Regions from separate parts of the Homo sapiens genome. Here region 2 is linked to region 1. A link means that fine-mapping ties the variant in region 1 to the expression of a gene that starts in the linked region. Tissue or cell type: esophagus mucosa. Region 1 holds a variant in brackets; the other region holds the start of a gene. All regions are shown on one strand. Distances are between the middles of the regions.

Region 1 (8,266 bases):
GGGAAGGATCTTTGTCCTTTTTCCTCTCTGAATCCCCAGTACCTAAAAGTGTATGTGCAACACAGTGGCTGCTCAATTAAAACTTGTTGCCTGAATGAATGGAAGATGGAGCTTTGAAAGTTTCCAAAGAATTTGGAATTTTTCCTTAGAGCAATTAGTGCCACTACAATCTTTTGAATAGTAGAGGGACAGAACAGACAGGGTTTTAATTAGACTAACGCCAAGAGGTGTGAAGAATGGACTCACCAGGGGCAGAGAGACCAAGGGTATGGAAGCTGTTACAGTCATTCTTGTGCAAGGAGATAGGACGTGGATTGGGGTGGAGGCAGGAGAATGAAGGGGAAGGGCTGGGCGGAAGGTACGTCGTAAAAGGGTTCGTGCCTGTGGTCTGATTGCACCAGGCTGACCAGGAAAGCCAAGTTTAAAATAGCAGCAAAGCTGAAGACAGGCAAAGTCAACACATGGGCTGAGGGAGAGGCCATGGAGGTATTCTGGTGAAAGGTGGGAAGCAGATCCGTACCCGTGATAACACCGCACCTCTTGGTTGTTCCGTTGGAGGTGATGAGTTGGGTTGATGACGGGTACCTGGCGGGATGCTCAGGTGGTGCACACCAGTGAGGCTGTGCTGGTAGTTTAAGGGGAGGCTGTGCTTTTTGCTGTGGTCGCTGCTCTGATTGGGGATGCCCCTGCCCTTGCAGGGAGTACAAAGTTTTGATGCTATCCCTGACTATACCCACGTCTTCCCTTTCCTTCAGCCATGCTCAAAGTACACATATCACTGTCTCCAGTCTGACAGGTGTTAATTATGATTTGTGCTGAGAAGAAAGCAACAGAATATGCCTCTACTGATACGTACCAAATATATCTATCTCACCGGGTACTGACATGCACTGGATGAGAAAAAGTTTCTCAGATTGGGAATGGTTGGAAAGTAAAAGTATAAAGAATAGGCATCTTGAAGATACACTACTGTAAAGCCATTTGGACACAGAATGGCTGGAAAGAACCTAAAGAAGAAAACAACATATAAAAGGCAGAGAGCTAATATTTGTTTTATTCAGAGTCTGGCTCCAAGAGAGAATGCAAACGAATGTGAGAGGGTGTTTAATCTGCTCATATCATCAGACCCATAGGATCATTCGTAGTTACACCTGCTAATGATACACATCTGCCTAAGAAAACCATGTTTTTAAAAATAGACAGTGGTATAGTGCCTGGTGTGTACATATATTTTGCATCATCTTGAGAATATCTGAAAATTTTCTATTGAATGCATGCAGAGGAGGTCATGCATTCATTTATTATTTCAACAAATATTTGGTACCTCCTCTGAGTGAGGTGATGTGTCAGGCCCTGGGAAGACATTACAGGCAAAACACAGTTTCTGCTTCATCGAACCGATAGTTGAGTGAGACAGAAGTCACAGCCCAAGGGAGCATGATGTTTCTTTGAAGTATGAATTTGCTTTTATAAATTCATATGAATACGAAGTATATCTGTGTTTGCTCTAAAATGCATTGCTTTAAAATAATGTATACTCCGTGCAAATCTCCATTCAAAAACTCACGTTGTACCAGAAGAAAGAGCAATATATTTTCTATGAGCTAATTTAAATGGTATTTTGGGACCCCTTCCTGCATAGCTGGCTGATATGGTCTGGTTCTGTGTCCTCACCCAAATCTCATCTTGAATTGTAATCCAAATTGTAATCCCCATGTGTTGGGGGAGGAACCTTGTGAGAGGCGATGAGATTGTGGGGGCAGTCACCTCATGCTTTTCTTGTGATAGTGAGCGTGTTCTCGTGAGATCTGATGGTTTTATAAGACGGTTTCCCTTTTTTGCGTGGCACTTGTCATTCCTGCCACCGTGTGAAGAAGAACGTGTTTGCTTCCCCTTCTGCCATGATTGTAAGTTTCCTGAGGCCTCCCCAGCCATGCTGAACTGCGAATCAATTAAACCTCTTTCCTTTATAAATTACCCAGTCTCGATAAATTCTTTACAGCAGTATAAGAACAGACTAATACCCTTGCAGGACCATTTGACCTCAGTGTATCTTGACTTTCCCCTTCCCTCCTCTGAGACCTGTGTTCAGGGGGTCTGAGGAAGGTCAAGACCTTGGAAGTGTGAAGCCCTGTTCAAATGTTTCTTCCAAGACAGCTGTCTCAAGCTCACTGTGCCCACAGGACAGGCGCTCCTGACTCTGGGGCTCCCCTACCACACTTGGTGCATAAGGGTCTTCTCTAGGCTGCTCATGGTTCCTCCAACTGTAACCATCCCCAATCTGAGCTCTTGCCAGCCCCAAAGATCTGCTTCTGACAAATATTCATTGCTCCAAGATCCACAGAACTCCATTCTTACCAGCGTGCCTCCAACCAGCCTTGACCATCTCTTTCTTGGCTTGAGAAAATCTTTCTCTCTTCGTGATTATTGCAAGGATATTTTGTCTGCAACAAAGGTTAGGTAATTTTAGAAACACCATACTAGGCTTTTTGCTGGGATATGACTTTATGGAGCCCTTGAGGAAACAGGCTCAGCCCATGCTACTGGCTTCAACAGAGAGAAGAAAAGGGATCTAATATGCAGGGAAAGAAAATACAAGTTAACATCTTATCTAAAAAAAGTTCCCAGCATAAATGTTTTATTTTCCTCAAATCATCTAGGATATTATTATGGTTAACTTTTGGCTTTAATCCCTCAGATATCACAATAATTAAATTTCTCTTACTTAACAAATATTTCCTGAGCACCTCTTACGTGCCAGGGACACTGTGAATAGAGTGGGCAAAAATCCCTGGTGTTCAGGGCCTGCCTTCTAGAGCCGAGCTGAGGGACTGAAGGAAAGAAGGTTGTCGAGGCATCCCCAGTTCTACTGTCATTATGTGGTCGCTTATGGGACTTCAAAGGTTTTATGAGGTTGAGCAGAAACCAGACATGGCCCACTTTACTGGCTGATTTTTCAGGCAGTTAATGAGATTTTTCAGTAGTATAATAATTGCTTGGTCACCCAACATTAGTCATAAAAGTAAATTTGAAGAGGGGTCAGACCACAGACCACTTTTTAAAAGACCCTCCTTTACAACATTTTTTTATTAGGAAACTTTTACTGTGAAATCATAGTTAGGGAAATATTTCTTCGGTCTCAGAGAATTATCTTTCTATTCTTTCTTCCCCCACCCTAGAGGCCACCTACTTCAGATTCCCTTCGCAGTGTTTGTTAAGTGGTTATCGTTATGCATTGTTAATGCCCCAAACACAGCTTTACATAAAACAGAAAATTTGAAAAGGCACTGAATACAAAAATAAAATATTCTCAGGGTACCCTTCATGTAGATTTGCTCGGCCGGCGGAGGGAAATGGACTTTAAAATTAGGTCATTTGCGTTAGAAACCCTAAGAAGCAAAGTTCCTCCATTCTGAATGCAGAAGTTAAAATCCAGGCCATTTTAAGACAGCTGGGGCGGCAGGGAGGAGAGAGCAGGACATGTAACTTTGTGTGACAGGCCGTCATGGCAACCGCAAAGGAATCCCCACCCCAGGGTGTGTGCCATTCACAAACAAAGGTGCTACCCTGCAGTCTTCAGGGGGAAATGTCTGGCCTTTTATCTCCTGCAAATTCCCCAGGCTCTAGGGAGGCCACACAAAGCAGGGGCTTTTTTTTTTTTCTGTGCTTACTCAGTCTCACTAGAAGGGGCCCTTTCTTCCAAACTCGGTTTCCCTTCCTGCCTCCCCACCCCCCAACCCAGCTAGTTTCTGCCCTTCCTGCCTTCTCCCCCTAAGCCAGGTGTGTCACTGCAGCACATCCCCTTCCTTATATCTCTGGGGACACCCTCAGCTTCTGGATCACAGCCACCCTGCCCTCTTTCCTAAGTCAGGCTGCTAAGCGTTAGGGAGGAATTTACTCTTAGTAAATTCTCAGTTCTTAGTAGGGCACCTCCCTCCTTGCACGCCCTGCCCTAGG[G/A]TGGGGACAGAGGGTGTGTGGCCTTTACTTTGTGAGAGGTTCCCAGTTTTGCTTTTTCAACGAAAGGGAACAAGTCATTTAAAAAGATAAGCACTGAGCCAGGGTTAAGGGAGAGCACAAAAATAAGATCATTAGAAATTGCAATTGAAGCCAAGTCTAACTTCGTGTCCAAAGATCAGGATTCTTGGCCTTTGTCACCACTGCTGAGTTCTCCTTCTTAAGGGCCCAGTTTGCTTTTTATAAGCTTCAAGTGCATTGTCCTATTTGAAAGATATCTTCTGCTTAGACAAAAAGAATTCTAACTTTTATTCCTTCGTTATCACACGTCCTCGGCCCCTGATTTGATCTCGGAGCAGGGCTCCAGGCAAACAGTGCCCCCTGAACTCTCGCCTCGGCTTCCCCGGCCTCCTCCCTGAACTCTCGCCTCGGCTTCCCCAGCCTCCTCTCCTCTTTGCAGTCTGGTTGCCTGACGCACGCAGCGCATGCTTGCTTGTCACAGACTGCTAGAATGCAAAACGATGAGAATTAATGCTGTTATTAAAGGATTTTTAAATTAAATGTGCAGTTTAGAGCCAGATGCTGCCTTCTTAAAGGAAGAGAAGTTTAAGTTAAAAAATCTGACAGATATTCGTTCCATCTAGCGTGGCAGAATTTATGGTAGATTACCGTCTTTGATTTCTGTGGCCTGGGGTTGTCAGGTCCACTTGCAAATGCGCTGTGGGAAAGAGTTGCACTTTTGTAATTTGAAAACATATGGGACATATGGTAAATATTACACCCATAACTGTTACGAAGTTCTGTTTCCTTAAAGGACCTTTCTTTTTTGCCTGTACCCTCCAGGGGATTACTTGCAAGAACCCCATTATCTTTCTACCTCTATTTTCCCCTAAAGTCGATTTGCTTTATTCTGATGCTTTAGAATCCCAGTGAAAAAATCTGGAAATCGAGTGTTTATTTTTCTCCAGGCATGACAATACAATATTCTACAACCTCTGGTCTCCTCTTGAGCTAATGTTTATTTTACTTTTCATCTTTGTGTTCAAAGATACAGGCTTTTAAAAAATGAGTTTGTATGTTTTCTCTTTGAAGCCATCCTCCCCCTATTATATCTGTAAGCGGGTCAATTAAATAGGTATTGACAAGTTATTACCCTAGGCAAAACCAAAAACCAACCAAGTCTCAGGATTTAAGAAATGAGATTATAATGTGCAAAATGATAAAGGTTATCATACAGTGCAAAGTCCTATGGGAATGCAAAGGAATGAGAAATCATGTCTGATTAGAATGATCAAGAACAACTTTATTGCAGAAGACACATTTGGAATAAGCCTATTACGGATGTTGTAAGAGGCAATATGGATAACTTAGGGCTCCTGCTGGGCATGGCTGTGAGAGGAATGTGTTTGTAGGCTGCTATGTGGCATCTCCCATTGTGAGACAGCCTCCTGGATTCCAAAGTTGGAATGGTCCAGAGTGGACAATGATGAGCTGGTGGTCCCCTCAAAGATATACTCACCAGTACGTAAGTCACCTATGAATGGTGCAAGGACATAGCACGGTGTGTGGTCATTTCTCCAGATTCTCTGAATTAGGTGAGGCAGGGGGATGGCAGGAATGTGCCTTTTTAAAAGCTCACTGGTTGGCTCTACTGATCAGGTTTGAGAACCACTAGAACTAAAGTACACCATAATTAGGAGAGCTAACTATGTCCCTAACTGTAAGTTCAGGGCTATACCCCAACAGAGTAGTTCAACCCAGCAGTGAGCTAACACATTTGCCTGTTTTATCCAATCCCCTTTTTACATTGAGTCAGGGTAATTTTTCTAAAATGCCAAACAGACTCATAAAATACTTCAGAGGCTCCCCACTGTCCCTAGGAAAATGCCTAATTGTTAACATGAACCACATGATGCTCTTTGATCAGATTCTTGCCCACTTTCTCATCTCATCTCTTCCCATTCCTCTTTTTACATTTCCTGCTCTAAACGTCCTTTTCCTCTCATCTCTAAGCCTTCTCCCATGGCTGACCTTTCAGGGGGCCTGCTCATTCCTATCTGCCACCCGGCAGTACTCTTCCCCCAGGTCTCCCTAGAAACCGCTTCCTGTACAAGGACCTCCCTAATACCTCCATCTACCCGGAAGCCTGCCTTTTATGATCTCAGAGCCATTTCTCTACTTTGAAATAATTGCTTATTAGTCTGTTACCTTCTAGAGAATAAACTTTGTGAAAACAAGAGTCAACTCACCTTCCTCAATCTTGCCCTTCTAGGAGCAAGAACATTCATCTCTCGGTATTCATGAAGTATTGGTTCAACTTCTCTCAGATACCGAAATTCAAGAATGCCCAAGTTCCTGATATAAGGTCTCAGAGTATTTGCATATAACCTATGTACATCCACCCATCTACTTTAAATTGCCTCTAGGTTACTTATAATGCCAACTACAATGTAAATGCATATTATACTCTATTTCTTAGGGGAAAATGACAAGAAAAAAAAAACTGTACATGTTCAGTGCAGACACATTTTTTCCCCAAATATTTTAGATCTGAAGTTGATTGAAGCCACAGATGTGGAACCCACAGATACTGAGGGCCGACTGTGCTGTGTCAACGGAGTGTGCTCACCATAAGCATTGTCGAAAGGATGATTAAATGAAAAAAATAAATGAATAAGGAAATTGAAAACATATTTTTCTCGAGGTCCTACAACAAACAAAAACTGAGGAACAAATTTATAAACAAACAACCAAAAAAGAGACTGACAGAATTCTTATGTTTTTGCTGAAATATAATCTAATTTCTAAGTAGAATTTTACTTTACAATTTGCTGGTGATAACTAAATTATATCACAGTACATTATCTTCAAACGGTTTTTATTGCTGTTGCTATAACTTCTTTTAAGTGTATCCCTCTGATTCAAAAGGCTAGCTCTGAAAAAGGTAAAATGCTTCAAGGACGATTCTAATTCTAATTTTTCAGATCTAGTATACTTTTTAATCTGCATTTGGAAATTATTTAGTTAACATACTAGCAGATAATTGAGAAAATGTGTTAAAAGCTGAAATAGCATACTAGTTCAAACATGTTATATGCCTTGTAACAAAAAGTATTTAAAATAAATTTGCTTCCTGAATTTTCTAGAATTCTGATGTAAGAGTGAGACATGCTCTCCCTGATATTTTAGGAACTTTCTAAGTGGCTCTAACTTCTTAAATTTTTGTAGTCATTCTACCAGTGTTAAGTGACGTTAGAAATTTTGTTTGCATTTACATTTCTAGTAACTGTAAAAATCCTCCCAGTTCCACGACTTTTAACCTAGGATCCAATGACCACACTCCTGTCCCCCGCCACCATCAATAGATTTTCAGGGAGGAGAGAGTGTTTACAAACCTTCTGCAGTTGCATGTAAACCTATGTGGATTTACTTATGTGCCTTTGACTGTGGTGAGGGGTAAGCTTTATGAGATTTTCAAGGGGCACTGTCTGAAAGTGTCCTGAGATGTTTCAGGAACCTGGATAGCTGAGTCCCAATTTGCACCTAATTTATCGTAAAACATCTGACCACAAAGTAAATATGTGTCACCAGGAAATAGGTACCATAAAAGTGACTAAGCCTGCAAAGAAAAGTACAGAGAGTACAGGTTTTATTGCTCCAAATCGCTTGAGGTCTCAGAAGGACAAGTGAATCTGGATTGGCACAGTAGACACAGACATTTAACAAGATTCTCCACCAAACTCTTAAGTACGGCATCTTGAGAAAAACCCTTTGGTGGTGCTGTACGTGATAAAAAACAAAGTTAAGACACAGATCTCTGCTCTCAAGGAGTCTAAGTATATATATATATGTGTGTGTGTATGTGTGTGATGTATACATATACATATACATATTCACACATATACACACATAAGCATGTGTGCCCTCTCACACACACATATCATTTTTAAAAAGATTGGTAGAGATTCACTTCAAATGGTCATGGGAGCATTCGGGAGAAAAGAAGGGAAGATTGATTACAACCGCGAGATTTGGAAGGGTTTCTGGAAAAGCTGGGGTTTAAGCTTATTCTTCAATAGACAAACTGAGAAAGAATGAAAAAGGGAGAGGCACTGCAGACAAAAGAGATTTGTTATAAGTGGAAGGAGAAGAGCACAGTCTTTGGGACAGGCAGTGGAGGATTACAGAGGACCTAAGTGTTTCTTTCCAGGGAGTGGAGTCTAATGGAGAACAATCGCGGAAGGATAGGTAGAAGCCAGATAAATATTTGAGTACTGGGCTGGGCATTTGTACTTTACTCCATATGTGGTCG
Region 2 (8,000 bases), 430 kb before region 1:
AAAGCCCAAAACATGCCTAGGAATTCAAAGGGGTAGGAACATAATTACTTGCATTTTTTTTGTTGGAGGTGGGGAATTGCACTTTTTTAAAGCTGCGATTATCTATTTGTCATCTCATTTTACATTTATTCAGCTTTGTGTTAACTTTTATAACTATGGTATCCTTTGAAATTCCCAAATCCTTATTTATTTGACTTATCAGAACTTTTTTTTTTTTTTTTTTTTTTGAGACTGAGTCTCACTCTGCCGCCCAGGCTGGAGTGCAGTGGCGTGAACTCGGCTTCACTGCAAGCTCCGCCACCTGGGTTCACGCCATTCTCCTGTCTCAGCCTCCCGAGTAGCTGGGACTACAGGCGCCCGACACACGCCCGGATAATTTTTTATATTTTTAGTAGAGACTGGGTTTCACCGTGTTAGTGAGGATGGTCTCAATCTCCTTACCTCGTGACCCGCCCACCTCGGCCTCCCAAAGTGATGGGATTACAGGCGTGAGCCACTGCGCCCGGCCTTCAAAACTTAAGTCTAGAACACAGTGAAGTAACTTCCTCTGCTGAAATAAAATCTCATTTGATGAGGGTTTAAATACATCTGCTAAAAGTATAGATTTCTCGAAATACATTGATCATGATTCAAAGTGTGGTAAAGAAAAAAATTAACCAAGTTTTCCCAATAATTGTAAAATGAAGTCCAAATACCAAGAGATACGACACTGATGTGATTGGTTCTTGGTTTGGCATGCTTTGGAAATTCTACTTTGCCTTGTGCATGCCAGTATGACCTACTTTTTTGCTGGCATGTTATACAATAGTAGATACAAATGGCTTTGAGGTGATGCTTTTAATTACCAAAATTACCATTAAATAGTAGAATGTTGACATCTTCGAAGTGAGTACTGCTGATGCTTTTCACATTGTCTACATTGAATCTCTGTTGACTGAAACTAAGCTGTATATTCTCTCACACTATAGATGTTTTGTGTGTGTGTAGGATTCCTTTTCAGTCAAATACGCACTTTGTTTTGAAAAGGAAGCGATTTTAAAGTGTATATTTACATTTGTCCCAAGGTAAAACGCTTTGGATGTGAGACTTTCTGATTTACTGAAAATGTTATTTTTGGAAGCTGGCTTATTTTCAGACAATGCAAATTTCCTGTATTTCCTCTAGTTTACTTGGAGAGGAGGATGTAGTGAGCTAAGAGGTCACAATTTAAATTTCACAATATAAGTTTGTCAAAAGGTACTGAGTACCCAGTGTTCTTTTAAAAGATCATTAAGCTAACTTTATATTCAATTTCAATGAGTTCCTTAAATGGTATTTTAGCATACTAAAAACTAGCCCTTTCTCACCCTTGTCAAGGTAGGAGTCATAGTGCCTGCTGCTTCCTGGGTTGTTGGTGCTTCCTGGGAATCCGCTGTTCAAATCGTCATACCGTGGTGGAGCCTTTTTAAAATAAATTTTATATATATATGTGTGTGTGTGCATATATATATGTGTATATATATACGTATATATGTGTGTGTATATATATACGTACATATGTGTATATATGTATAAATATGTGTATATGTGTGTATACGTATATGTGTGTATATATATATTTAGTTTGAAGGCTTATTTAAAATGAAAATAAATTATGAAACTTTTCTGCTCTCAAAGATCTGTTTGGAAGAGTAAGTGTATTCAGTACTTTGTATGCCTTAATGTGTTTTCTATCTTAAACTAGTCTTCACAAGCTTTTACCACTCCAACTGAGATGTATACGTTAAGTTAGACTAATGTTTCAAAAACGGATACTTAAAAGCAACGTACCATAAAAATCTTCAGAAATTGTTACAAAGAAGAGTGAAAGAAAACAAGGTGTTTTACCATATGCATTTTTAAATTTAGCGTAGTGGATACTTTGTTTTAAAAATACATAATTTGTAGAATTACTGCCCAGTTTGTGTTTGAAACATAAATCCTGGGGTGGACGGCATTAAATTGAAAAAAAACGTGGGCATACAGTATATTTTAATTTTTCATACTGAATCGTACATTTGCACTGTGCCTTATTTCTACCGTGTTCTTCCTACTGTTGGACATATAAAAAGATTTTCCTTGGAACTGTGACTTGATTAGATGCTGCAGTATGCTGGATCCGGGTCGGTGGACCGCAGAGCGCTCGAGATGCGGAGAAGCAAAGCTGGCCGCTAGTGGGCGCTGTGGCTCCGTGGAAGTCACGGACGAGCGTCAGCACCGGCGCTCGACCGGGAAAGTAGCGAGGAGTTCCTGCCAGCTCTGCTCTGGGGTCTTGCAGACGCCGAGTGAGAAGCACATGCCTTGACTTTTCCATCTCACACCCTCTAAATCTCTGGTCACTTTGGGAAGCGCGCGTGTCTCCTAGAGGCTAGTGAGACGGTCCCCGCGTCGTGCCTGTGCCGGCGACACGCGGGGAAAGCTCCAGGGGCGCCACCTTCCCGGGGGGCCAGGAGGGAAGGGAGACGCCCGCAGAGAAGGCGGGAGGCGACGATGCTCAGGCCCTGATTAGAGCTGCAAATTCCGGCGCCGCGTCGCAGGAATCGTCTTGCAATTCCCGGCCCCACTGACTGAAACTGAGCCGTAGGCGATTGGTACCAAAATCAAGTGAGAAGCCCTCGCCGAGAGGCGTCGGGAGAAGCGCGCAGAAGCCGGGAGCTCTAAGGGTGCGCGCGGAGTGCAAGTCTTGCACGCGGGGCAGCGCCGCATCTGCGGAGAAGGGACGCCGAGCGGAGCCTGCTGCCTTCCGCACTGCTCGAGGGAAAGCCGCGCCCTCTGATTCCGCCGAGGGGGAAGGCGCCCCCGGGCGCGGAGACAGGTGGCCCGCTACTCGGCCGTCGCTGTTTCCACGTCTGCACCGCGCCCAGAAGGCCTCTCGCCGCCCCGGGGGCGCCCTGTGCACGCGCTGAGCGCTTCTCCTGCCCGGCTTCTGCTCCGCTCCCGCCGCCCGCGGGAGCCAGGGGCGGGGCTCACCTGTCAGCCCGAGCCCCGCCTCGCGGCACCCAATGTCGGGAGGGGATGGCGGACGGACGGACCGGCCGTCCAACCAGCGCGCGGCCGCGGAGCCGCGGGCCAATGGGCTTCGCGCGGCGGGGCGGGGCCCCGCGTTTATAGCGCTCTGACAGCGCGGCGGCCGCGCTGACTCTCCTCGGCGGGGACCGCGGCGCCGGCCGGAGCGAGGAGCTGCGCACGCAGCGGGTCCCGGCGCCCTCCCCGCACACAAAGGCCCGCGCGCGTCCGGAGCCCGCGGCGGGGACCGAGCTCCCTCTTTCCTGCCCTGGGGGCCGGGAGCCGCGCGGACTGAGAAGGCTCCTGCGCGCCCGGAGGCGCCCTACTCCGCTCCGTGCTCCGGGACATGGAACCGCGCCGACGCGGCGCCCGCGCGCTCGGGCCGCTGCCCGCTGCACTGGATCTATAGTCACAGGCGGCCCCGCTCGGGGCGCAGCGCCCGCCGCCCGCGCCGGTCGTCTCCGCTCCGGGTCTTTGTGTCCCAGCCCGCACCCGCCCCGCGCCCACCCGCCAGCCGCGGCCGGCCCGGCACCCTGGAGCCGCACGGGAGTCGGCCGTCCGAGCTGCGTCCGGCGCGGCGCCCCGGAACCCCGAGTCCGCCGCGCCGCCGCGCCCCGCGCGTGCGCTCCCGCCCCGCGCCCTGAGGGCCCCGGAGAGCGAGCGCACCTGGCCCGGCGACCGCTGGAGCTGCGCAGCGCGCCTCGGAGCTGCCTGCGGGCGCACGCCGTCTTCCCCGCCAGTCTGCCCCGGAGGATTGGGGGTCCCAGCCTGCGTCCCGTCAGTCCCTTCTTGGCCCGGAGTGCGCGGAGCTGGGAGTGGCTTCGCCATGGCTGTGAGAAGGGACTCCGTGTGGAAGTACTGCTGGGGTGTTTTGATGGTTTTATGCAGAACTGCGATTTCCAAATCGATAGTTTTAGAGCCTATCTATTGGAATTCCTCGAACTCCAAGTAAGTGGCGTCCGCGATCCCCCTATGTCCCCGCCCCGGGGTCCGCCGCGCCGTCCGGGCGGGAGGAGGGGTCAGTCCGCGGGGCCTCGGAGCCTGTTTCTGGAACCTCGGTTCCCCGTCCCCCACCCCCAACCCCCGCCCCATTTCACTAGGTGGAGACTCCTCGCTCGGCTTTCCAACCCGAGCCCCGCTGGAACGGACGGTCTCTCCGCCTTTCCTCCCCCGAACGCTCCCAGGCGCTAAAAGCTACTATCGGCTCGGGTGTCAAGTCCGGGAAGGTGTCCGATGGCGATACCTGACCCTCTCCTGTTTTCGAGGACGAAGGACATGGCCACAATCTAGGCTGGCCGGCACGCGGGGACTGGTGGGCTCTGGAGAGAGGCGGAGATGCTGCATTCGCGGGGAGCGCGGGCGGCGTGGTCCGGGGCCCGCGGGCGGGCGACCGGGGTGGCAGGACGCTGGCAGCGAAGCGCGTTCTGGAGAGGGGAGCCTGGAGTCGCTACGCTGCCCGCAGAGCCCTGGAGCCGGGGCGCCTTGGCACCGCGCCGCCAGCCCGAGGGTGCGCGGGGAGCTCGCCTGCTTCGCAGGAGAACTCGGGCGTCGAGCCCTTTCCTCCGCGCCGGGGAGACGGGCCTTAGGCTTCTCCCTGAGGGCCCGCCGCACCTCGGCCTCCCGCTTCGTTCATAAGCCGGTAGCCCCGGAGTATGCGGTCTCGATGGCCGACCTGATTGTAATGCACTTCCTATAAAAGCTTAGGGCCCTGCCCAGTCGACACTGCTCCTGAAGCCTTCTCCCTCGGGACCCTGGTAGGAATGGGATCCTTAGGATCAGATTTGCTCTTACCGGACTCTACAGCCGGGAGCGAGCCAGGCCTTGTGGAGAGTAACTTTCAGTTTGGGCCACCAGAGTGCATTCAGAATTTAGAAAATCCCATCCATCCCTAAATCTGTGTGGTCATAACTCGTAGTCATCTGGGTATTCAGTACTGTGTATCCCCTTATTTCGAATCACAGCCAAAACATATTTTACAGAATCTTGGAATTGTAGTCTCGGGAAACTTGGAGAAGAAGTATGCAGACATTAGCTGGTTTCTGGAGAAAACGTTTGAGATCAGAAGCAAAATCAATGGCCTAATTGAAGTTGAGCAAGTTGGGCCTGGTTTTAGGAGAAAAGAAATGGGGGATTGATTTAGAAATCACGTCTTAAAGGAGTGTGTCCATTCTCTTAAAAGTGTCAAATTTCAAATTCACTAACATGTTAACCAAGAATCCCTTCATGAAAAGGGCGAAAACGTCGGTTACAAATCGGTTTAAACAAATGTTTGTATGATGCTAGAAGGCACTTTCAACACCGCTCATACGGAGAAGTTACTTAGCTCTGCCTCCTTCCATGTAGTCTGCTCTTGCATGGATTATATTTTTAATGTAAATTGTTGTATTTGCTGATGAAGTACTGGCGGCGGCATCTTTGCATCGATGCCGGCTCGGGAGGCGCCAGGTGGTGCCGGAAGGAGCCGGGCTAGGACCTCGCGCAGCAGCGGGTCCCGGAGTCCGGGAGAGGCGGGCGGGCGGGCGAGGCGGTCGCGGGGAGCCCGCGGCGCCGCTGCCCGCCCGGTGCCTCCAGAGGTCACTCTTCCATGCGGAATCGCGCAGCGCCAGGCCTCGCCCCTCCCCCAGGCCGCCTGCTCCAGCCACTCTGCACTTTCACTGACCGGTTCTCTTTGAGGCTGTTTTTTTTTTTCTTATGAGGATTTAATATTTCTGTTTAAATCTAGTTGAAAGCAATTCCGTTAGCCTCTTCAGCGTTTAGTTCGGTGTGTGTATCTTTATCTTTGCGCTATATTAACTATTAGTTTGTGTGTATCCGGTAGGAGAATTAGAAATACCTAGTTGGGAGAAAAAGAAAAGTAGAACAATAGTTATTTCAACCTAAGGTTTAGACGTTAATAACTTCTTTTTGTAATGTGTCGAGATGGGGGGTCCTGGGGGGAGGTGACAGGTACTCACCACTCCCCCCCCCCATTCTGATGATGAAGATGAGTCTGTCTTTCCAGCTATGTCCAGACCTGCGAGGGCCCTGCGTTTCTGGAAGCCTGCCGTTTGCGCGGTTGAGGTTGCTGCTGCTGTCTTGTCCTCCACAGCAGCATTTCTTTTAAAATTCTCCTGATAACGGCCTGCCTGGATGACTGGATAATGTGTGCCTGGAAAAGGTCTCCCTTGCAGCTGAATGCTAGCTCCAGAGATCAGAAAGATTTCTTCCTGTAGGAGCCATAGGAAAGAGTCCTCTCTAAGTTTTTGAGAATGCATACAACCCCCTGATGACAGGGGGTCGCTTTCCTTGGGGAAGTTTTATATTTATTTCCAGAGGAAAGTTTGAATCGGTAAATATGATGTGGCAGGAAGGTAATCAAATGCATTGAAGTTTCACATCAGTTCCTATGAACTGTGGAACAATTCATTTGTAATGAAGCCGCCATCAGTAATTAGATTTGTTTCATTCAGAGGTCAGCTTTTTTAGCAGGTGGTCGACACAGGGAGCATGCAGCAGCTGTTTGGATACAGGGTCCAGAAAACCCTTTGTAAATTCAGCGTCTCCGTAACTACTTTAATCACATTGTCGGCTCTCCCGTCCCTGACTGTATGTAATAATGGAAAGATGTCCTGCGTGCTGAAACAGTAGCTGCCCTGTTAGGTTATTCACATTGCTTTGATACGTTCTGGTAGAGTTGGGTCCGTTGTAGCCATTTTGGTTGTTTAAAGTTTTGGTTTTTTTTTTGTTTTTTTTTTAATTCAGCAGAGAACAGTAATGCCTAGCTTCCGTTTTTAACTTAACACTTCAGTAGAACATTTTCTTCCAAGAGGGAGATTTTGGCCTAAGTAAAGTAGTGGGCTCTTTTTTAAAAAAAAATTAATTTTACTTTAATGTGAGCAAATCTGTATTGGTATGGTGTTCTGCAATGCATTACACTGACTTTGAAAATTTCGAGTACTAATGCCTTATGTCTGGGGTTACCATTCCCTGTGCATCACATACTAGTTAGTTAACATAGCATTTTGCTTTTCCCATGTAATTTTTTCCCTATATAATACTGGATTCCTGATACTAATTGACTTGATACAAAAGAATGGCTGGATGATATCCAGATAACGTATAATACATGGGCTTCACCACAATCAGGCTCTGAATAAATACAGACCTGTCAGAGATTGATAAAATAAACTACAATGGATAGTGCTGTTTAAACAGTCCATTCAATAACATATATAAGCCAGCCTGCCTTCCATTGTGTCTGAAATTCTTATTTTTGTAGGTAAACAAATGCACATTCAGCACTGATTGAATAGCCCCTTGAACTATGCTCCACAGTTTGCGTTTGGGTTAATCTTGTCGGTTTTAATATAGAGAGAAAAAAGCTCAAAGCACCAGGGGTGGAATTGTTAGTGCTTTCACATCCACATTCCTCACATTTTGTCAGGATGATAAACTGTAGGTAATGGACTGTCGTTGTTCTGCAGGACAACTGAGCCAGGCAGAGCACAAAGACTAAGCTAAAGCGATACCTCACAACATGCTTGGTAGCCTTCTTTTCAGATGAGAATTTATTTGAGAATCATGTGTCTAGGGACTGCACATCTTAACCTCAACAGTTACAGCTTCAAGCCCCAGAAACAGGAGCTGGAGGTTAAGATGATTTGCTAAGCACCTGGTTCTAAATCTTTTACAAAGCATAAGCTGTTGACGCTGGTTCTGCCGACGCAAAGACATGCAGATGACTCCAACATTTCCAGAGGCTTCTGACTTAAGCTAAAGTGTGTGGACAGGTGAATTCGCCATGGGCCTGGAGACCAGCTTGCTAAAAACTATGTGTTTGAATGGTTCCTCCAGACAGAGTCAGCTGAAGAACAATTGGTGGATTTATATTAAAACCTCTTGTCTGTAAACTTACTGAGGTGCATCCTTCGGTTGGTGGATCAGTGAGATAATTGCCTTCAGATGGACATTGCAACTGGAGCAACTAAATCCTTGCT

Evidence for each region. PIP is the estimated chance that this variant, and not a neighbour inherited with it, causes the effect.
Region 2: EFNB2 starts here. The variant in region 1 is fine-mapped to the expression of EFNB2 in esophagus mucosa (GTEx, PIP above 0.99).

What each region holds. Positions count from the first base shown.
Region 1 is chr13:106,096,075-106,104,340 of GRCh38, reverse strand. No RefSeq gene overlaps it. Among named protein-coding and RNA genes, the nearest start is that of LINC00460, 280 kb to the left of the region's middle. RefSeq lists an enhancer at 3,180-4,047. The variant G/A (reference allele first, on the strand shown) is at 3,958.
Region 2 is chr13:106,530,815-106,538,814 of GRCh38, reverse strand. It overlaps EFNB2 (ephrin B2), which reads left to right and starts at 3,153. Exons shown (of 5, transcript NM_004093.4): 1 at 3,153-3,972. The coding sequence starts at 3,851. RefSeq lists an enhancer at 2,056-2,125 and silencers at 2,706-3,365, 5,495-5,594, 5,655-5,714.